Homo sapiens: one gene and its partner. The protein of the gene in region 1 binds, or shares a complex with, the protein of each later gene. Each region holds a gene or a part of one and is shown in the gene's direction. Other genes may lie near its edges. The genes, in order: ADRA2A and GNAO1.

Evidence for each region.
Region 2: the proteins of ADRA2A (region 1) and GNAO1 are in contact, whole or in part, in a cryo-EM structure (PDB 7W6P), measured with the Homo sapiens proteins. Residues at the interface, in NP_000672.3 of Homo sapiens: Arg77 (codon at 9,131), Arg146 (codon at 9,338), Ser149 (codon at 9,347), Ile150 (codon at 9,350), Ala153 (codon at 9,359), Ile154 (codon at 9,362), Asn157 (codon at 9,371), Leu158 (codon at 9,374), Arg160 (codon at 9,380), Pro162 (codon at 9,386), Ile234 (codon at 9,602), Ala238 (codon at 9,614), Arg241 (codon at 9,623), Arg383 (codon at 10,049), Arg386 (codon at 10,058), Phe387 (codon at 10,061), Val390 (codon at 10,070), Leu391 (codon at 10,073), Phe444 (codon at 10,232), Asn445 (codon at 10,235), His446 (codon at 10,238); in NP_066268.1 of Homo sapiens: Ile28, Lys32, Lys193, Asn194, Leu195, Asp218, Phe336, Thr340, Asp341, Ile343, Ile344, Ala345, Asn347, Leu348, Gly350, Cys351, Gly352, Leu353, Tyr354.

The regions. Positions count from the first base shown.
Region 1 is NC_000010.11:111,069,095-111,085,240, forward strand, and holds ADRA2A (alpha-2A adrenergic receptor), read left to right. Parts: upstream 1-7,934; 5' UTR 7,935-8,902; coding exon 8,903-10,300; 3' UTR 10,301-11,813; downstream 11,814-16,146. UniProt on the Homo sapiens protein: Alpha-2 adrenergic receptors mediate the catecholamine-induced inhibition of adenylate cyclase through the action of G proteins.
Region 2 is NC_000016.10:56,327,489-56,334,488, forward strand, and holds part of GNAO1 (guanine nucleotide-binding protein G(o) subunit alpha), read left to right. Parts: intron 1-1,142; coding exon 1,143-1,303; intron 1,304-7,000. UniProt on the Homo sapiens protein: Guanine nucleotide-binding proteins (G proteins) function as transducers downstream of G protein-coupled receptors (GPCRs) in numerous signaling cascades.

The DNA.
Region 1 (16,146 bases):
TTTGATGTTGGGGGTATGAACCTTGGCAGGATCCTGCCTGCCATTGGTCACACGCATGCACAGGTCACAGGTGGGCCTGGGACTTACACCTGATCAGACACAAGGCTTAGAGGATTCCCTTCTCCAGCTCTTTTCTCTTTGGGTTCCCGTATGTAATCTTGGTCTCCCAGGGACCCATTGTCCCATTCCTCTGGACAGAAAGATAGGTTTCTTTTAGAGTTTTAGTTACCCATGATCCTGCCACCAGTTCTGCATGACTGATTCAGTCCCTGGGCAGAGTGGTAAGGTAAAAGAGCAAAAAAAAAGACAGTAAGAGTCCTGAAATCCCTCCCCGGCTCTGCCCTTTAGAGCACAGGGTCTTTCTTTCCCTGTTCCTACTGCCAGAAAAGACCTTTTTTTTCCTCCTCAAAGTTGTAGCTGCCTATACGGCTACTGCACATTTCCCTATTTGGGGCCACTCTAGTGGCAGGGTGAGGAGAGTAAAAACAAGACAAATAAGAAAAAATGTTCAGAGAGTTTCTCCACATTTCCTAGCTCACAGTGGACCTCTCCACCATTCTCTGTCAAAAGAGGGAGCTTCACCCTCTGAGTTGCTCATACCGGCTGGGGTGCTCAGTTCCACAACTGAGGCCTTCCGTGGATCAAACGTGAGAGACAAAAGAGGAAAAAAATCAATAGGAAACTCTCTCATGAGGCTTTCTTCCTCAATTTTTGTTTTCCCTTTCCACTCTCCCTGTTACTGTCTGCCTTTCAGATAGCTGCTTTTTGAATTTTCCAGATGTTTTAGTTGTGCTGTTTAGTTGGACCGAGAGGCTGTAATAGACTTGCTCCATCTTGCTTGGCATCGGGAGTGGGTCTATCTTTTAAAATTTCTTTTGTTTATCTTTCATTTCTACATGATTGGACAAAGGGGTGCTTCAAAGTCTTGAGTTTAAGCCACGCACAGTGGCGTAGGCCTGTAGACCCAGCTACCTGGGAGGATTGCTTGAGGCCCAGGAGTTTGAGGCCAGCCTGGGCCACATAGCAAGTCTCCATCTCTAAGAAAAGAAGAAGCATAAACTTAGAGTGCCATCATCAACTGAAAATATTTGGTGCTTAAAATCAAAACTGTTATTTAATTTTTTTGAATATATGTAACACTAACAGAAAAGATTCCTCTCAAAGACTTTGCAGTGTATAGAAGTTATTGGAAGTTATGTTTTGATGATTATATGATCATTGTCTAGCATGGAATCTGGCGTATTGAAGATGAAAACTATTTTTATGAAGTTAAGGCTCTAGCATTCATTCTGGTCAAATATTCTGGTTGCACAAAATAGAAAACAACTCCAAGAGGCTGAAGTAAAAGGGGAAGTAGTTGTGTGGGCTCTGAAATCTCATGGAATCCAAGAAAAAGAAGCAAGAGGTTCATCTCAACTTCCTAGCAACAACATTTGGAATTTGGAGTGCTAGGAGAAACCAAGGCAGCTTCTTTCCCATACATACATATATATATATATAATTTTTTTTTTTTGGTGGGGAGGCTTGCATGATTCCTTACATTTATTACTCTCTATTTGCTTAATCCTCTTTCTCCACAAAGTTATCAGCTTCTTAGTGACAGTACTGAGTTACTGCATCCATCTTGCCCAAAGCCAGCTCTGCCTCAGGTTAAAATAAATTTCATTTATGTGAATCAATCCATTTTCTGTTATATTTTAGGCACTTTGGGTTGGCTCGAATTGCAGAAGAAATCACCCTAAAAAACCATTCACCTCTTTATCCTATTCAAGCTTCCATCAGCTTTGAGATTCCAACTCTCTTCTCTTTCTCTAGATTTATTTTTTTATTTTTTATTTTATTTATTTTTTTGAGACAGAGTCTTGCTCTGTTGCCCAGGCTGGAGTGCAGTGGTGCAATCTTGGCTCACTGCAACCTTCGCCTCCCAGGTTCAAGTAATCCTCCCGCCTCAGCCTCTTGAGTAGCTGGGATTACAGGCACACGCCACCTTTCCCAGCTAATTTTTGTATTTTTAGTAGAGAAAGGGTTTCACCGTGTTGGCCAGGCTGGTCTGAGCACCAATTAAACCCAACACTGTCTTATGTATTTTCCATGTATTCACACATTTAATCTTTGAGGATATGCATGAGATATGTGAAATTATTTCCCCTTTTTCCATATGAGGAAACTGAAGTCTAGAGAAGTTAAGTAAATATAGTTATGAAATGGCAGAAGCAGGACCAGAACTCAGGTTTCTCTTACTCTAAAGCCTAAATTCTTAACGACTTCACTTGAATGCCTCCCAGAAACTATCAGGCCGTGGTCCTTTTACCAAGGAAGAGTTTGTGCTTTGTGTTATCAATTAGGAAAAATGGGGAAAAAAAGATCATTTCCAGGGAGCAGTGAGAGCCAGACCATCTCTTAAATATGTCTGTGTGCATGTGTGTGTGTGTGTGTGTGTGTGTGTGCATGGGTGTATATGCTTCAGGCGTGGCGTCTCCATGGTTTCTTTGAGTAAATGTGAAAGGTGATTTACCTTACCTAATTAGATTAATGGAATATTAGCTTAAGAGTTATTAATGTTGGTGACAAATATCTCCTTCATACCCAGTGGCTCTAGCTCACCTGTTATACCTGAGAACAAGTAAGCATTGCTCACCATAACTGTTTCAAGGTTTGCTTTTGCTCATGCTTCTGGACAAAGCAGACAAGATAATTCACCTGGATGTGGTGGAAAAGGTCACTGCTTTGTGAGGACTGACTTGGAAGACTGTGGTAGGTGATGTTAAACTTTGTGTGTACACACAAGCTCTCAAAAGTCACATTGTAGTGGCAACACAAACATGCCCTGCAGGGTGGCACACCAGCGAAGAGCCAGCTGGGAGCCCAATCTTTCTTGGCATCCTCAAGGTTGAGTTGATCCTAGTACCAAGTGCTGTCTTTTTGGTATTGGCCAGAAGCCCTTGCAGAGATAGAAAACACCTGGCTTAATTTTCCAGGCTGGGGCAGGATGGGTTAGCACGTTAGAAAGAGATAAAGGCGATGGCAGGACTCATCGCTTGTTTTTGTGAATACAGCAAGACTGATCCAGCAGTCAAATGATGAACATGGTAGGTGGTGAATAAGGCAGCTCCTTACAGCACCCCTGGAGTTGATGCTTTTCTTTTGGCTTCCATTAACCTTCAATAACGATGGGATTCCCAAGGGCTTCAGCACAGGTACAAAGAAGTGGAGGAATTAAGTAATAGCTTAGAGGAAGCAATAGAGTTTTCCCTATTGACTCCCCCCTTCCCCTTGTCAGCAATACAGTGAGTTGACAGATGATTGTAGCTTACTGCAGCATTTGGTTCCAGCTGTGCACACGGCATGAGTAGTAGCGGGAACATTGCATTCCCCACCTGTTCATCATGTTCAGACTAGCAAGTGTGTGTTTAAGTTCAGGCTGTGGTGGGGGCAGGGGTGGGTGGGTGGGGGGGTGGCCTGTGTTTATGTGTGTGTGTGACCAAATTGCTTCTATCTGTGAGGATTTTGTCACAGCCTAGGAGTCCAGGCTAAATGAGTCATGTTTTCTTTTTCTTAGACAGTCAAGTCTTTTTTTTTCAAAAAGTAAGCAATTAATATTCTCTCCCAGCCAGCTCCCTCACTTTTGTTAGATGAAGTCACCATCAAAGACATAGAAGCCAAGACAAATTTTGGTATTGCCTGATACTTTAGTTTCAGATATAACATGAGGACAGATGATTTATCTTAAGAAGCTTTCTTTTATTGGCAAATTACCTAGCTGATAGTTATAAATTTATCTTCCTCTACTTACATATTCCTTTTAGGAAAAAAGAGAATGAGAGAATCCTATACTTATATCCTTGAACTAGTTAAGCTACCTCAACTATTAAGAAATCCTGATTTTGGAATAAAATGCTAGCCATCGTAGTCACCAACTTCACCAACTTCTGGGCCCCTCTTGCCTCTTTGATAGCTTCAGTGTAAGTAGAATTCATTCATTCATACATTCATCCATCACACATTTATCAAGTATCCATGCTCTGTGTGTTATATTTTGGTATTTATTGAATTACTCATGCACTTGTTAAAAATGCAAACACCCAGGCCCCGCCTTCATCCTACTGAATCAGAATCTCCAAGGAGTAGGTACTAGAAATATGATTTTTAAAAAGCCTGTTTTAGAGATGCTCTAGGAATAGAGATGAAAAGGACAGTCCTTTCTACCTGCTAGATCATCATACAAATGAATAGATAAGCTAGAGCAAGAAAAGTCCATCTAAGCCATGATAAAATATGTATGGCACCCATGAGAGAGAGAGGTTGCTTCTACTAGGAGGAGGAGGGGTTGCCTAACCAGTTGGTGTAGTGCTTGCTCTCCATCAGCTTGGCTGTTGGGGAATGGTCAGTCTCCTAGAGTGTATGTGACGTTGCCTCCAAGAGTGGGCATTAGATACAGAAAGAGGGAATACATCTTGCCTTGTACTGTCCTAATCTAGTAGACATCAATGGACTGAAAGGACAGGGCTAGAAGGAGGATGTGCTAACTTGTCAATGTGCTCATTTCTGATGAACATTTTGCAGGTTTCTCTTTGGCAGTGCGATCAAGGCTGGAGATTCACAGTAAGGAACTTAGAAAGCTCATTGGGCTTACCACCAGGAAAAATAGAGTTCGGCTCTGTCCTTGCCACTTATTAGCTGGACAGTTTACTTAGTCTGTTGCCTAGTTTCCTCCATCTACAAAGGCAGATAATAAAATCTACATTATGGGATTGTTTTGGGAATTATATAATATATAGTACATAAACTGCTTGGCATTGTGCCTAGCATGTGGTTGGTGCTAATAGGTACTATTTATTTTTAGTAATAATATAAGTAATAATGGACCCCCATTTGGGTCCCCAGAAATGACTCCTTCTCAGGCCATCAAACCCAAACTCCATATTTACAGTGGCTCTCAACTATTTGCTCTGTCCCAGCTCCCTGGAGGGCTATGACACTGTCATAGCAGTCTCACTGGCTCAGGGCAGTGATTCTCAATCTGGGGCCCACTCTTTCTAGCTCAAGTTGGCTTCCTACCCCGGGTAATTTGGACACTGCCTCCTGTCCCCACAAGGGCACTTGCTCATCACTCCTGTCCCCCACTGAGATTTATTGCTTTGGGTGGTAAGTCTTCAGCAGGGTGTGCACACCTGCAGCTCTCAAGGAGTTTTGTCAAAATACACATGCTGCATCCCACCTTGGACCTGGTGAATAATTTCCCTGGTGGGGCATTGGTAAGTGTATTTTGTCTTCCTAGGAAATGCTGATCTATAGGCCTGGTTGAGAATTATTATATTTGTGGATATCTTTCTGCTCAGCAATGTCTCACTCAGCTTGCACAGCATGAAATCTTCTAGCAAAAATTAATGGTGTCCACATAGCTTTTCAAAGCTCAGAGATACTGACCCTGTGTGACAAACTGAGGAGGCAGAACCTTTGGTGATAAGGAACATGTGACAGGAATAAGAACTCTGTGTATAAAGGGGCCATGTATATCACCCTACACATGGTGCATACATCATGGTACTTAATAAAATGCAGCACTTGTTATTATTGGTATTCGTTGTGTATTGGCCTCAGGGTTCCTGGCTCTGAAAAGACCTGTTCCCATTTTAGGAGAAAAGACTCCAAATCAGGGAATTAAGAAACCACCTGGCTGTTTGGGAAGCATTTAGAAAATATGACAAGAGGTGTCATACACAGGCTAGCAGCAGAAATTTCAAGAAAGATAATTACTGTAAACTTTGTTTTTATTTCCTCTTTTGATTCTGAAATTAGGAAGAAGAGCAGTGTGTTGGAAGCTGGGGTGCAGATGGTAAGTGATGGTCTCCTAAGACTCAGTTCCCGAGTTCTACAAACAGCAACACAGCAAACCCCAGATTGCCACGGGCTCTGATTTTTGTCTCTTAGTATTCATACTTGAAGTGTGGGGTTCCTAGTTGCTGTGCAAAAATGACTGTAGCCATGTTTCCAACTGAGCCTACTGGCGATGTCCAAAGCCCCTGCCAAGAGCCTCAGAGCAGAGACTTTAGTAGAAGATGGAAAATGAGTGACTCAACAGAGCGAGGAAATTGTCTTCTCAGCTTCCTTTAGATTGTCCAGAAAGGGAGATTAGAAAGGCTCCTCAGAACTAACACTGGAAAGGGAGTTTATACCATTAGGGCAAAGATTGGGAGACAAAGGTACTGAAGTCAAATGAGACTTCTGTGAAATACTTTGGAAAGTACAGATTTTGAGACTACATGAACAGCAGCAGCACCAATAACTGTATCACTGGTGCGGGCTATAGACATCAGCTGGGAATGAAGGTGATTCTCAGGGCCCTTAATTTAGCCATCAGCCCCCAGCCAGACCTAAGCCTGCAGCTGGCTGCACAGAGAGGCAGCCTGTTCCATCCTTGGAATTCCAACTTAGGTGACTGCACAAGGCATTTTGGTTTAGTGGTTCCTTAAATAAGACGACATTCCTTTAAGTCTAATCTCTCTCCTGCTGAAATTTCCTACCCTCTTGGGTTTTACCATTAAACTGCTTGCTCTCATCTGAAAAGTGCAGCTAGCAGGGTGCAAGCTAGTGCTCTAGTGACCGTTAAAATCTATCCTAGGACAGCTAGCACGCACGGAAAAACTTGCCATTCGCCGCACACCCACTCCCCCCCGCCCCCACCGCTATTCTTATCAGAGAGAACATGGAAAATATTCTACTCCCTCTTCCCCTTATTGAAGGATGCTGTGTGTACATCTGAATGGGGGTGGGATGCGGGGCGGGAGTGGAGTCTAGCTTTCGGTCCTCAACAAAAACATAATGATTCCCAGCAAGCCAGAGCTGTGCAACCAAGGAGGCAGGATCCTGGCCTCTCTCGGATCTGCAGGAAGGGTGGGCTGTGCGGGTCCAGAGTGGGATGCCCGTTCTGGCCGGCGGTGCCTGCTGAGCCCTTCCTGATGTGACTTTATTAGACAAACCCCCACTCCCGCCAGGGGTAGACACACGAGTATCTGCTTTAGGAAGATTTCTGCAACACGGCAGGGTGCAATTCAAACTCTGGGTTCTCCTTTCCTGAGCTTAGAAACCAATTTGTTCGGAGATAGGAGAAGGCTCTGTTGGCAGAAGACCTAAGAGACGGGAGGAGGCGCCTGGCGTCAGCGGGTCGCTTCTCAGCCGTGACCACGAGCGGCCAGCAGGTGTCAGTGCGTCCTCGCTTTGCCCTGGCGCTCGGCTCCTGGACCCCTCCCCACCTCGGTCTAAGGGGGCGCGGTCCAGACCCCGGGTCTTGCGTTTCCCGCAGACAGCATCGCGGCTGGGAGGACACGTAGCCGCTTCTTCCCTAAGCGGAGGTCTGAACTCCGGCTTGTACCACTTCCCCGTGGGTGCTGTCCATTCCGCCCCAGGGGTTCCATCCGAAGCCGCGCCTTCCTCCCTCTCCAGGACCCCTTTCTCCCCAGCCTCCAGGAGCACCTGCGGACCGCGTCGGCTCTGGCCCGGAGCTGGGCTGCTCCAGACGTAACTCACACCGGAGGTTACTTCCCTCGATTTGGGCGGGGATTCCCTTCCATTTTTTTCTTCCCTTTTCTCCCAAGATCCAGCTTCTTGGGGGCACTCACGGGTGCCCGTTGCGTTCTGCTCCGTCGGCCCGGAGCTGCATGGCCAACTCCCAGCAGGGGCCGCTCCTCCCCTACCCCCCACCCCCGGGCTCCCTCTTTAAGTCTCTAGCTCAAGGTACCCGCCTCTCCAAAGGGCTCGTCCCGCCTGAGGGCAACGCTCCCCGAGGTCCAGCGCTAGGCGCGGGCGCTAGACTGGCGGAGGGGTGGTGCGAGGGGCGGGGGAGGGTCGGCTTCCCACGTGGGGGCTGACGCCGGCTGCTCAGCAACGCTTGCTTGATCCTGGGGCTATAAAACGAGTCCACCGTGAGCGCAGCGGAGCAGCAGCAGCTCCAGCTCGGTGCAGAAGCCCAGCAGCCGGCGTGCCGCCGCCCGGCCACTCCAGCGCCTTCTTCCCCGCCTTGCGCTCCTGCCCCAACTCGCGCTGTCGTCGGACCCCGGCCCATCCAGCAGCGCTCGGCGCCCACCAGGCGGACGCCCAGGAGAACCCCTGCCTCCGTCGCGGCTCCTGGAGAGCTGATCGTTCACCTGCCCCGGCCCGCCTGAGGACGGGGGTGCCTTCATGCGGCCCCCACACTCCTCACCCCGCCGCCGCCGCCGTCCCGGAGCTCCGCACAGTGTGCCCCAGCCCCAGCAGGGCGCACAACTTTGGAAGTCTCGCGGCGCTCCGAGAGGCGGCAGAGTCCGCGCCCCAGCCCCGGGCCGGGCCGGGCCAGAACCGCAGCGTCTGGGGGAAGCCAGAGAGTCGGTAATCGCTTCGGGGATGTAAGGCGACAGACATAGGACCCCCGAGCTCGCATCAGCACCCTTCGGCTGCCTCCCGGGGTGGGGGCGGGCCCCGCACACGGTAAGACCTCTTGCTTTCGCTCAGGCTCAAGATTCAAGATACAGATATTGATATGTATATATATATTTAATTTCCTGTCATCCTTCCAAGTTATCAGGCCACCGATGATTTTTGTTCTCCCTTCTTGAAGAATAAATCTCTCTTTACCCATCGGCTCTCCCTACTCTCTCCCGCCGCTTAGAAATAAAACTTGGCTGTATTAGGAGCTCGGAGCAAGAAGGCGCCCACCGAGAGCGTCTGAAGCGCGAGCCAGGCGCAGTTCGCGGGACCCGGGCCATGGGCCGCTAGCGGTCCTCCAGTTCGGGCCCGGCCTCCCTGCGGCCCCCTCCCTATGTGAGCCGCAGCCAGGCGAGCGGGGCGCCGGAGGAAGAGGAGGACCCACGGGCGCCGGGCCGGAAGGCAGCTGGCAGCAGGCCCAGGCCAGCGGGCGCCCGCGTTCATGTTCCGCCAGGAGCAGCCGTTGGCCGAGGGCAGCTTTGCGCCCATGGGCTCCCTGCAGCCGGACGCGGGCAACGCGAGCTGGAACGGGACCGAGGCGCCGGGGGGCGGCGCCCGGGCCACCCCTTACTCCCTGCAGGTGACGCTGACGCTGGTGTGCCTGGCCGGCCTGCTCATGCTGCTCACCGTGTTCGGCAACGTGCTCGTCATCATCGCCGTGTTCACGAGCCGCGCGCTCAAGGCGCCCCAAAACCTCTTCCTGGTGTCTCTGGCCTCGGCCGACATCCTGGTGGCCACGCTCGTCATCCCTTTCTCGCTGGCCAACGAGGTCATGGGCTACTGGTACTTCGGCAAGGCTTGGTGCGAGATCTACCTGGCGCTCGACGTGCTCTTCTGCACGTCGTCCATCGTGCACCTGTGCGCCATCAGCCTGGACCGCTACTGGTCCATCACACAGGCCATCGAGTACAACCTGAAGCGCACGCCGCGCCGCATCAAGGCCATCATCATCACCGTGTGGGTCATCTCGGCCGTCATCTCCTTCCCGCCGCTCATCTCCATCGAGAAGAAGGGCGGCGGCGGCGGCCCGCAGCCGGCCGAGCCGCGCTGCGAGATCAACGACCAGAAGTGGTACGTCATCTCGTCGTGCATCGGCTCCTTCTTCGCTCCCTGCCTCATCATGATCCTGGTCTACGTGCGCATCTACCAGATCGCCAAGCGTCGCACCCGCGTGCCACCCAGCCGCCGGGGTCCGGACGCCGTCGCCGCGCCGCCGGGGGGCACCGAGCGCAGGCCCAACGGTCTGGGCCCCGAGCGCAGCGCGGGCCCGGGGGGCGCAGAGGCCGAACCGCTGCCCACCCAGCTCAACGGCGCCCCTGGCGAGCCCGCGCCGGCCGGGCCGCGCGACACCGACGCGCTGGACCTGGAGGAGAGCTCGTCTTCCGACCACGCCGAGCGGCCTCCAGGGCCCCGCAGACCCGAGCGCGGTCCCCGGGGCAAAGGCAAGGCCCGAGCGAGCCAGGTGAAGCCGGGCGACAGCCTGCCGCGGCGCGGGCCGGGGGCGACGGGGATCGGGACGCCGGCTGCAGGGCCGGGGGAGGAGCGCGTCGGGGCTGCCAAGGCGTCGCGCTGGCGCGGGCGGCAGAACCGCGAGAAGCGCTTCACGTTCGTGCTGGCCGTGGTCATCGGAGTGTTCGTGGTGTGCTGGTTCCCCTTCTTCTTCACCTACACGCTCACGGCCGTCGGGTGCTCCGTGCCACGCACGCTCTTCAAATTCTTCTTCTGGTTCGGCTACTGCAACAGCTCGTTGAACCCGGTCATCTACACCATCTTCAACCACGATTTCCGCCGCGCCTTCAAGAAGATCCTCTGTCGGGGGGACAGGAAGCGGATCGTGTGAGGTTTCCGCTGGCGCCCGCGTAGACTCACGCTGACTGCAGGCAGCGGGGGGCATCGAGGGGTGCTTAGCCCCAGGGCACTCAGAAACCCGGGCGCTGCCTGCTCTGCGTTTCCTCGTCTGGGGTGGCTCTGCAGCCTCCTGCGGGCGGGCGTCTGCTGCTCCTACAAGGGAAGCTTCTTGCTGCCAGGCCCACACATCCCCAGTTGTTGGTTTGGCCACTCTTGACCTGGAGCCATCTTCCTAGTGGGCCACCCCTAATCACTATTGCTTCCTAAAGGTATTTTCACCCTCTTCGCCTGGTACAGCCCTCACAGCTCTTCAGAGCAAGCACTGGACTACAAGGGCATGGCTCACAAAAGGTTAATGGATGGGGGTTACCTAGCCCTGGCTAATTCCCCTTCCATTCCCAACTCTCTCTCTCTTTTTAAAGAAAAATGCTAAGGGCAGCCCTGCCTGCCCTCCCCATCCCCCGCTGTAAATATACACTATTTTTGATAGCACACATGGGGCCCCCATATCTCTTGGCCTTGGTTTTGATGTTGAAATCCTGGCCTTGGGAGAGATGCCTTCCAGGCAGACACAGCTGTCTGGTTCAGGCCAAGCCCCTTTGCAATGCAAGCCCTTTCTGGTGTTATGAAGTCCCTCTATGTCGTCGTTTTCACCAGCAACTGGTGACTGTCCCTTCGACACGGACCTGCTTTGAGATTTCCTGACAGGGAAAAGATTTCTGTCCATTTTTTTCCTGTGCCTAACAGCATAATTGCCTTTTCCTATGTAAATATTATGATGGTGGATCAAGACATAAGTAAATGAGCCTTTCTGCCTCACATCAGCCCTGTGTATAAAGCCATTATTCTCTGATGCACTGTTTGCCCCAGTAACTCACTTTAAAACCTCTCTTTCCAGTGTTCCCTCTCTCCCTCCAGGGCCACTGCTTGAAGAAGAATATGTATGTTTCTATCTTGTATGTCTGTGTGCCCCTCCTGCCCCGAAAGTGCTGACTATGGGGAAATCTTTTAGCTGCTGTTTTTAGACTCCAAGGAGTGGAAATTATGTGGAAGAAGCAAACCTGATACAATTTGCCCAAGGTAAACAGTTTGAAAAGACAAATGGGCCTGCCAAACTGTACAGTTTCTTCCCCAAGAGCTGTTAGGTATCAAAATGTTGTCCTTTCCCCCCTCCGTGCTTTTCTGGTTGAGATCATGTCATTGATGAACTGCCAAAGTCAGGGGAGGAGGGCAGAGACTTTGTGTTTACATCTGCATTTCTACATGTTTTAGACAGAGACAATTTAAGGCCTGCACTCTTATTTCACTAAAGAAAAACTAATGTCAGCACATGTTGCTAATGACAGTGGATTTTTTTTTAAATAAAAAAGTTTACAGATCAAATGTGAAATAAATATGAATGGAGTGGTCCTCTTGTCTGTTATCTGAGTTTTCAAAAGCTTTAAGACTCTGGGAACATCTGATTTTATGGATTTTTTAAAAATAAAAAATGTACATTATAAAAATTTTTTAAACGTTCCATCAGTAACAAAGCTACCATTTACTAAGTGTTTCTGACATGCTAGACACTGTGGTGAACTGGTTGTAGGCATTGCCTCGTTTACTTTTCTCAAGAACGCTATGAGGTAAGTTTTATTACTATCCCCATTTTACAGGTGAAGAAACTGAGTCTCAGAGCAAGTTTGTTAACCTTGCTCAAGGTTAACAAGTGGTGGAAATGCATCGTACCCAGCTTTATCTGGTTCTAGGGCCTGCACTCTTAACCCCAGAACCTTTCCAGAGTTTTGGCATTAGCCCTTCTCAGAACACTCCCAGTGGAGAGGTGTCTATGCAGTGTGCTATCTATACCAGGTGTGAGATATATCCCAGTATTTAATATACACAAGGTGTATACATACCCCAGTGTCTACATGACCTAATGTGTCTATATACCTCAAAGTGTGTATCTACTCCAAAGTGTGGTATATGCACCAAGTGTGGAATATACTCCAAAATGTATATCACACCTTAAAGCATGATAATATATGACATGTAGCATATACTCCATAGTGTGGTTATGCACTAAGTATGGTCTAAAACCTGAATAGAACCATGTATTAGTTGGTGGTTTGAGTTGTCTCTGGCCAGAAGGCATGCATCCTTCTTGTTGCATTGCTATAATATCAAAGTCTGCTCTGCTGTCTAGGAGGGCTTATGGCCCTCATACTATGGTAATGGCACTTTGAAGCTGGAAGGGGCCTTAGTGATCCAGGAGTCCAACCCCTCATCTGACAGATGAGAAGGCAAATGCAGATGCAAGAGGAAGCGACTTGCTCAGGATCCCAAGGCGCTAGGTGACAGGGCTCTGGCTCCAGGCTGCCCGGGTTAGGGCGCAGCTGAGAGATGTGTAGTAGTAGTTCTGTGTGTGTAGTCAGATGCAGTACTGATGAATAGCCACTTATGGAGGAGGGGGGTTTGAGGGGCAAACACAAGCGTCAGGTTGTGGTTTTGGGGGAGGCCAGCTTTTGTGAGCCCAGTCACCTGTAATATGTGCGGACCAGCTTTGGACACCCCCCAGAAGCAGGTCCTCTGCACCCTCTGGGCCATGCAGCATCTCCTCATCTTCCTTTGCTTCTCTCGTGCAGGAGAGGGTGTCTGTGTATGCAGCAGTGGGAGGGTAGAGAGCCCTGAGAAATGATCTGGGCACTGAGGGGCCTGGGAGAGGGAAGACCATGGCTCTGAGGGGGTGAGGAGTTCCTGCCGTCACCTGGATCCTCTGAGCCGGCACACAGGAGGATGGCCAGGTGCTGGGCTCCAGTGACCCTGGCTCAGAGGCTTCAGAAAACAGCCTCCTGGCCTGTGGTGCCACGGCTGGCTCCCTGGTCTGGTTCTGTGGCCTGCTCCCCATCCCACCCTCACCCCAGCCTCTCCTCTCCCTCCTCACTCCAGTGTACCCATTGCCCCAAAGGCAAACAGTGCCAGACAACAGCCTGCCTGGCGAGCCCCCAGGACCCAGGCTGTGTGTCCCAGCCACAGGAGCAGATACAAATACTGCTTGCTGTTGACTCTCAGCTCTGTCCTGTCTGTCAGGGAAGTGTTTGCCTTGCCTCCACCCGCCGAGGGGGAAGAAGCATGGGCTGAGGTGCTACACGGAGGGGCCTCTGGTGTCATGCTCCCTCCTCCTCGATACAGAAGCAGAGAAACCTCAGAGGTGGATGGAGGTTGCAGAAAGTGGGGGAGAGAGGGCTGGAGCCCAGGCATGGGTGGGTTTCTGAGTTCACAGTAGGAATCACTGTTTATTCATTTGCAAAGGGCTCAAGCAACAGTCTGCCAAGGTGTGGGGTGGGGAGGGAAATTAAGGTGAAATGGCTCCCACAGGGATCTTGGCTTAAAGAGCTAACCCCACATTTTCCTGTGCATAGTATCTGTTCCCGAGTATCTGGGCCAAGAGGGTCTGTCTTCGTGGCCGAATCTCCTGTTTTATGTAACTTTGGTTGGGATATTGAAAGCCATTGGCTTTTGGGTCTGAAGTGTGTCTTGCTAGATTTACTCGTGCAAGTGTGCTGGGTTGGGGGAAGGGTAGTGCCTTCATTTGAGCCTGGGCACAAGCACAGTCTCCTCCTCCCCAAGGCTTTGTTCAATTTCTTCTATGCTAAAAGGCTGGGGGAGAGAATGATGAAAACGTGGCTTGGGCTTTCCCCTGTCTATGACTGTATAATCAAATCAGAGATTTAGAGCCAGAAGCATCCTCATCAATCCTTAACTCTTACCTTGTAGTGGCAGATCAAGGGACCTGAGACCTAGAAAAGCTGTTGGTTATGTAGCATTCCAGGAGCCCCTGAGCCCACTCTTCCATGTGACTCTCCGTCTGATGCCATATGCACCCAACATGAATTCTATTTTGTTTTGGGATGTGGTGAGTTGCTAATCAACCCCAGAGGATCCCCTGTGCCTGCTTTGTGTCAAGGACCATCCTAGGCATTGCAAGGCAGTTCTCTTCCTTCCCTGCATGCACTGTGCAAAGCTCACCACTTGTCCCTGTGGAGTGAGATTAGGGCCTGCCTCTGCCCTCTGGAAGCTTTGGAGCTACATGGGGAGACAGGATGTTCCTGTGAAAAGCACTCATTAGCCACACACAGTGACAGTGTGGCAGTGGGGGAGAGGATGCTGTGTGCCCACCAAGGGTAATAGGCATCTGTACTGTGAGTGAGCAGTGGGGGAGAGGTGGCTGTGGCTGGGAGCTCAGGGCATAGAATGTGGGAGTTGGGATGTCCACACTCTGAGAAGGCTAGGCCCGCGAAGGAAGCTCTGGTTCTAGCAGCTGAGTCCTGTGGGACCAGTGCCAGGCCTGGGCAGTGGCACCTAGGCCCAAGTCAGACCTCAGCTTTCATCCAACCTCATCTTGGGGATGGCATGACAAGGTCCTGTCCCCATTTGGGGACACCTGTAAGGAAGTCTACGTCCTTGACTCAGTAGCATAATAGGATCCAGGTACCGAGGTCCAGAGCCCAGTGCCAGGTTAGCCCTTTGGCCTCTGCCCTGGGCCCTGCCACCCCTCACAGTGGGCCTGAGAGTCCAGGGTGCAGGAAGGGGCACCTTCCTTAGCAGAGGGCACGCGCGAAAGGGAGGCCACGTCAAGTCACGGAGCAAAATCACTAACACTCAGATTTGTTTTGGAAATAGCATTGATCTATTTGATTACCAGAAATCCTGGGGCTTAGAGTTAGTTAAATACAAAAAAAATAGAACAGGGTCTGTTGGAAATAGCCTAGACTGAGGATTAGGAGGCCTGCGTTCTAGGCCCAGTTTTGTCTTTTACCAGCGATGTGGTCTTGAGCAAATCCCTCTCTGAGTCCCTGCTTCTTCATTTATGAAATGCAAGTGGTTGGTCTAATATTATTTAACAGTGTGTTCTGTGCAGTTAATTCAACTACAAAATCTATATTATCTACATTATCTATTGACATTATCATTCTATCTGTCTCTACTGTCTGTCACCTACGTATCATCTCTTCCCTGTCTGCCACCTATCTGGTGAAATGCTGGGGTAAGCAGTCTTTAATAGGTACATCTCCTTCAGGATCTCTCAGAGCCTTTAATGTGCCTATGTGGTTTCCGATTGTCTGAGAGAGGATGACGTGGTGTGCTGTTTCCCAAACTCCCTGGACTGTGGAATTTCATTTTTTTTTTTTTTTTTAACAGAGCATCTCAGAGACTCATGTTTGCTGGAACTCTTGTTGGGTAATACTGGGTTAAGGGATCTCACGGGGCTTTTCTGATGATCCATTTTATAATTCTATGAAATGCCGGTCTGCTCTCTCCTTCTGTCCAGGCCATGGGTGAGGCACACTGGACAGGGCCAAGCCATGTGCTCTCTGTAGGGAGATCTGGCGCTAACGGCCATTGGCCTTATTGAGGCTGGGGTAGAAGTGAGGGTTTGGTGTGTTTTCCAAACATAGGCTAAGCCTATGTGTATGTGTGTGTAACATGTGAGCGTGTATGGGTGTGTGAGTGTGTATGTATCTCTGTGTGCGTGTAAACAGGCACCAATGGACACTGAGGACCACTTTGCTCACCTGGGCCTGGCGTGGAAGCATCTGGGCAGTTGAGGGTATATGTGTACACACCAGGGGAAGAGGTCACAAAGGGAATTAAAGGGGAGTGTGGTGCGTCTCACTGGTTGTCATGTCAGTTGGCCCCTCCCTGCCTGCGAGTCTGCTCCCCCGAGGTGGAATGCCACTCCCCTTCTAGGGCAATGGAGCCAATCTAGGAGGAGGATGGGATGATGCAATGTGCGCATTCTGGGGCAGCCAACACTGCTTCTCTGGCAGGCATATTCTGTAGCCTCCAGGCTGTCCT
Region 2 (7,000 bases), on another chromosome or scaffold:
GTTCTGAGGACGGAGTGTGTTCACCAAATCCTTTGTACGCTAAGTACTACTCCCGTGTGCAAGGTGGCGGTGACGGTGCAGTCCTGGGATGTCTGCAGGAGCCTTCTTATCTTCAAAGACCACCACACTCCTGGTTGTGATGTTACATGCATGTGATTGTAGTCTTTGAAAAGGCGACCCCACTTTGGTATCCAGGATGAGGGGAAGGGGAAGAAACCTGTTAATTATGCAGTACTTTTTCTGTAATTTCAAGAAGGCTCAGCCTACACGTGTGCACCTTAAGCAAATTCATCTACACCCACTCAGACAAGGAGGAAGGGAGGAGGCAGAGGAGGAGAGTGCTCCAAGCTCATTACCTGTCCTTTCCCATTTCCATGTTTCACCTGACCTAGGAGCTTCCCCTGCCCCCAGAGAAAGGTAGGCCCCAGGTCACAAACAAATCAAGAAAAATTAATAAAATGGACTTTTGGCTTTGAGCAGTCCAAGGGCCAAAGTTCTTGAGATTTAGTGTTGGCATGAGATATTTTTGCCATCTGCACTAACTTGGCAACCAGCCCCTCCCCTCCCCCAGTCCTGAGGCACAGCCCCGCTGTGGCCCATCCCTCAGCTAACCGGAATTCTCTACCGAAACGTCTGCTCCTCTACATAGCCCAGTTCTAGGGACTGCATTCCACCCTGTGTAAGAAGTATAGAAAATTACAGCTCAGCCAAGAACATTGATTTTTTTCTCCCCCGAACAAAATAACCGAGTTTTCAGGATGAAAGCAGAGCTGCTGGTTGAGTTGGAGGGTGGAGAGCAGAGCCAGGCCCACTCTGCCTTCCTGCTGGTTGAGTTGGAGAGTGGAGAACAGAGCCGGGCCCACTCTCCCTTCCTGCCCCAGAAAACTCTGGGGCCCCATGGGCTGCAGCTTGGAGCTCCTGCTTTAGGACATCCATGTGGTAGAAGGCCCCACGGGCCCCAGGAACCCCAACTGTGCATGCTCAGGTCGTGGCCCTCCCTGGAGCAGGCTGTGGGCTGAGCTGCGGTCCTGCTGCACTGGCTGGGCTCTCATCACAGTCCCCGCTAGGGGAGAGCCCTTGGCTGGCAGAGGTCTTCTGTCCCCACCAAAGCGTCAAAGCCCACCATCCACCTCTCCTCACAGGCTGACGCCAAGATGGTGTGTGATGTGGTGAGTCGGATGGAAGACACCGAGCCCTTCTCTGCAGAGCTGCTTTCTGCCATGATGCGGCTCTGGGGCGACTCAGGAATCCAAGAGTGCTTCAACCGGTCCCGGGAGTATCAGCTCAACGACTCTGCCAAATAGTGAGTGTCCCAGCGGGCGCATGGCCTGGAGCCGGGCAGTGATGCGGGAGTGGAAGGGACTGGTGATGGGGATTGGCAGAGCAAGGAGGATTCTCGGCTGAGGTCACGCCTGCCGGGAGATGTTCTCCCATAGGTAGAGGGTGTCAGGAAGGAATGAGAAGGGGCCTCTCTTCCTGCACCCCAGGAGGAGAAAGAGGCCAGAGGAGGCAGAGGACGCAAGAGACAACCAAACAGTGGAAATTCCCAGAGGGCCGGGACCTTGTCACTGGCTTGTCCTGGAGAGTGCCTGGCACTGCAAAAAGACAGCTTTCAAGTGTAGCAGCTTTGTTTTTTTATAGGGAGCCCCTGACCGCATAAATACAAACCAAAACAACAGCCATATAGGCAGAAAAGAAATGGTGCCATTTTGTTTTATTTTAGAAAAAATAATAAGCTTTCCATTCCCCATCTTTAAAATTAAGAATAAGGAATATGTAAGTCTAATTAATATAATAAATGTATACTTTAATACTATTTATAACTAAATAAGGGGGATGACAGGAGGGCAGGAGGACGGAAGGAAGAAAGGAAGGGGAGAGAGGGAGAAAGAAGAGGACAGAAGAGAAGACGGAGAGGTGGGAAGTGGTAAAAGCTGGAGCTGGTTAGAAGGTGCTCCCGGCTCTTCCCATCACAGCAGGTCACAGGTCCACTGGCTGCAGCTTTATCACTCTAGGCATCTCCAAGGACATCCTCACTGCTTCCGTGCCCTTGGCCTCTAGATTGGAGGCTCCAGAGCCCTGGGATGGTCAGCGTTGGTCAGGGACATGTCTTCTGTCATGGAGATACTGGGATTGCCCCCTTGGCTTTCGGGAAATGCACCCCACCTTTGCAATTGCAATCTGGTACCCATACATTCAGTGGGGGCTTTCTGCAAGGAGCCCTTGAGCTTTATCCCACTAGCTGGGAAGATTCTGACATGATCCAGTCCAGCCATTTTCACCAGGTCTCAGCTGGGGCCTTTTTGCCTCCAGGGGACATTCAGCAACATCGGGAGACATTTTTGATGGCTGCAGCTAGAGTGGTGCTCCCGGCAGCTAGCAGGTAGAGGCCAGAGATGCTGTTAAACACCCCATAGTGTGCAGGACGGCCCCCACAACAAAGAGTTACGTGGCCCCAAACATCCATAGTGCCAAGATTAAGAAACCCTGATCTACGCAATGCCAATGGACAGAGGCTGAGGCCAATGTTCACTCCTGGACATTTCCACGGGCCACATGGCAGCCAACAGACTAGGGACTTGAGCAAGGCCGGGAGCGGCTTCCCATTTCTGCACACCTAGATTGTCCAGAGGGCAAATGCCGAAGTCCTGTGAGTCCCAGGTGATGACTACCTAGGCCCCCGGGCCTGATGAGCTCCCAGGGACACCCTGGTGGTCAGGGCAGTGAGCCCAGAAGCTCAGTGTCCACCATTCCGTATGCACAAATCACAGACCAGAGCTAGGCAGGAGAGAGTGACTTTCAGCTGCCCTCCTCCCTTCTTCCACTCCCTGTCCCTGCCCTGGAGTCCAGGGCCTCCTCCCCGAGGGCCAGCAAGACCCTCAAGGGCCTTTAGGGCCAGCTGGCCCAAATCTGTCTTCTAGTGGCTCAGCAAATTCTGCTCTCCACTTACATTTTTACCCATTTCACTAATTATAACATGAATCCATTACCAAAAAAAAATTAAACAAATGCAGAGGGATGTAAAATGAGAAGTAATCTTCCTACTCCCCCCACCAGCCCTGCCCCTCCCACTTTTACCCACTTCCATTTATTTGTCCCAGTGGCATCCAGAAAAACTTGATCCTCTGACTCAAAATAGTATTTACTGCCACCCACTCTGGAATCGAGGGAGCTCAGCTCACCTTCCTTCCTTCCATCGCTCTCCACCTTCACCTCCGGCTTTTTGCTAGTTACAGGATTATTTTTAGTTCTTCCGGTGCTTACCTTTATAACTTTAAATAAGAAACTTGAGTCAGTATTTGTCAACTCCCCACCAAGTAAGCTGAGGAAATTCTCCTCCCTGCAGCCTCATCTCTGCCTTCTTTCAAATTTTCCACTTCCCAGGTTGATGATGTTACCATTCTCTTCTGTCACTGTGGCTGGGCCTTCCGTGTCTCCCCTCTGGGAGAGGGCAGGAAAGACAGGGGACACACAGGTGGCCAGGGCCGGAAGGGCCTGGCACATTTCCTGTCTTAGCAGTTAGACCTCAGCTTCTGACAAAGTCTTGGGCCCAGTATAGAAAGCAGATCAGAGTAGGTTTGTTGTGCTGGAAAGGAGAGGGAGGACTCACAGGGCTGCCACAGCACGTGCTTCCAGGGGGTGCCATTGACACCCTAATGCCCCAACCACCAAAGCACTTCTCTGCCCAGCCCTTTACAGGGGAGGGACCAGGGCACAGGCTCCTGAGCAGGCTCTTGGTGCACCCCGGCCTCTGTGAACAGGGCTGGCTCTCCCTTCTGGATAACTACCTAGAGGCAGGTCCCAGAAACCCTGGGCACATCCAACCAGGGGCTGTGAAAGGTGCTCTGGGGCCTGGTTGGCATTGGCTTTCCTCAAATCCAGTTCCCCACTGAGTTGTCCATGCTGGCGTCCGACGTTTCCTCTCCTCACCTTCTCTCTTGACCCCACTCCTATCGAGCTCTTGCTCCTCCGCCTGCTGAGATGGCTCATAGCCCAGTCCTATCCTGGGGGCTGCTCCATCAGCCTCCTCCCACTCAGGGTTCAGGGTTCAGTCCCCTAGTACCTGGTACCTCCTTTCACTCCCAGCCCCCGCCTCCTCTCGGGCCGCCCTTTCCAGACTCCCTCGATGCCTCCTGCCCACCCACCCAGGCAACTGGTGATGGGGGAGGTCTGCTGGGGGCTGCTGTATCCCGTCCCCAAGCTCCATCCCAGAAGCACCTCCTCTCAAGGCCTGGTGCCTGGTGACCTTCTCCTGTCTCGTTTTAAACACCTTGTACACTTGGACAACTCTCAAATTCATATCGCCAGCCCAGCCCTCCCTCCTGACTTCTGCCTACTCAGTGCCTGTTTGGACATCAAATGAGTCTCAAGTTAACATGAGCCCGTGGAACCCCTGGCTCCCATCCTCCCACTAGAAGCTGCTCTGTGTGCTCCTCCCTCCCTCTAAATGTGTCTCATTCCACCACGTGGAGGTATCTCTACTTCTGCTCGTCCTCCTGTATCCCACACCGAGGCCACCAGCAGATGCAGCTCCCCTGGCAGGTACATCAGATTCTGACCACTCACACCCTCCACAGCCACCCCCACTGTGCCAGTGCCATCTGGTGACGACAGCAGCTCTGCAGGCCCCACCCGCTGACCTGCTCTCATGGCAGCAACAGGGCCGTTGTCAACATGCTTCTGGCCAGAACCCTCGAGGGGCTCCCATCTCACTCAGAGCAAAAGCTCAAGCCCTGACAATGACCTCAAGGGCCTGCTTGCCCCAGCCGGACTCTGGCCACCCTCACCTCCACCACCTTCCCCAGCCTCACCCACCACCTGGCCCCTCCACGTGTGCTTCCTGCCGCCATGCCTGCCAGTGTTTCCACTGGGCCACTCGAGGCCCACTTGCTCCCTCATTCCCCTCAGTCTCCCCTATCCAGACGCCTTCCCCAACCACCCTGCATCAAATAGCAGCCCCCAGCAGCTCTCCCCCATCACTAATAGCCTGATTCGTTCTCTCACACTACCTCCTGACATATCATCTCTCTGACTCTTCTGTTTACCACCTCACACACGTGTGCACACTCACTTGGAACACAGGCCCTGGGAAGGTGGGGCTGTGTCGACTGCCCCATCCCCAGCTCCTGGAACAGTGGCTAGGTGGGATGGACAGCAGGTGCACAGTCAGCCTTCCCGACTGGGTTGTTAAGCAGTTCTCCCACACCTTGCCCACCCTCCACAGCCGTCTCCTTGCATGAGGCTCGGCCAGCACAGAGAGGCCAGAGGGCCAGGTTGCCCATCTAAAGGAGGTTTGCCCTGGCTGGGAAAGGAAGAGCAGGACCAAACGCTTCCAGGCTGGTGTCCAGCTGCAGATGACAGCAGAGGGCGTCCTCACAGCTTGGAAGCAGAGGTCATGGGCGCCAGGGCGGGGCAGGCACAGAGGCTTGGGAGAGGCTCCTTCTGGCTGAGACCAGAGCCTGCCCAGATGCCACTGGCTGGCGAGGAGGCTGTGAGGCCGGGGGCGTGTACAGGTCTGCTCTGCAGCCTCGGCTCTCTCACCCCATCCCCACACCGTTCCTGTCCACGGAGGGCAGTCAGGCTCAGGAGAGGAGGCCAGGAGTCCTGTTTAAATTTTTTTTCTGGATTTTTAAAATGCTGATGATGTCCAGTTTAAGAGCGTGGGGTCTGGAGCCAGTCAGAACTGGGCTGGAATCCCAGCCAAGTGCATTTTCTTTTTTTCTTTTTTTTTTTTTTCTCCCCGAGACAGAGTCTTGCTCTGTCACCCAGGCTGGAGTACAGTGGCACGATCTCAACTCACTGCAACCTCCGCCTCCTGGGTTGAAGCGATTCTCCTGCCTCAGCCTCCTGAGTGCTGGGATTATAGGCACCTGCCACCAGGCCCAGCTAATTTTTGCATTTTTAGTAGAGATGGGGTTTCACCATGTTGGCCAGGATGGTCTCAAAATCCTGACCTCATGATCCGCCCACCTTGGCCTCCCAAAGTGCTGGGATTACAGGCGTGAGCCACCGCACCCGGCTGCCAAGTTCATTTTCTCGCAGTGTGACTTCAAGCTTACCTCCCTGAGCCTTGGAAGCCACCCTTCTGTTTTCTTTTCTTAGGGGCATTCTCACAAGGATTGTCACTGGGTTCTATCAGTGAACACCCTAGCTGGCGAAGTCATCTGCCCTTTCCAGCCCTGTGGACATCCATGAGCTGGTCAGCATGCCCATCTCTCATGCAGTGGTAACTGCAGGTCCAGCCAGCAAGCTGGCCCCCAGCAGGTCCTGGAGCAGATGCAGCCTGGGACCCCACATCGTTCTGTGGTTCAGACACTTGGGGCTCCTCCCTGTGGGCTGCTTGTGGTTTGCCCCGGCAGCAGGGATGGGTGGCCTGGCAGGCTCCATGGATCACTGAGTCTTCCTTCAGGCCTGGCCCAGCTCCCCACTTCCTGATTTCCCAGATCCTACCCTGGCTTTAGGTTCAAACTTAACCCACAATGAACCCCAAAGCCCTTGCAGGCAGCGTCCTCTGAGTGCTTGGCCTGAGGCCTGGGCAGGTGACTTGCAAAAGCCTGGTCTGTCCCCACAGCAGGAGGTAGCAGGGGTAAAGAGCCCTGATTCCAAAGACCGGGTCCCAGGGAGGCCCAGCCGCTGTATGGCTGTGCAGCCCTGAGCCTCCAAGAGCATCAAATTGGAAGGGGCACACAGACCCCTTGGTAAGTGAGAAGGAAGTGTGGAGAAGGCAGGGAACTGCTCAGGGGCCGCTGAAGCCCCAGACAGTAATAAAATTATGGCCTCTGGAGCCAAGGGTCCGGGTCACAGCCTCAGGCAAGGTACTTACCTTCGATGAGCCCCAGTTTTAGTACATTTAACTCAGGGAAATTACACATGAAACATGGTTACACATGCAAAGAATAGAACCTATCTGTTGGCCATTATTATCTTTTAAATGAAAAAATGACAAAACAGTATTATAATAAACATGGTAGTCTCATATAAAAGCTTGATCTTGTCTGAG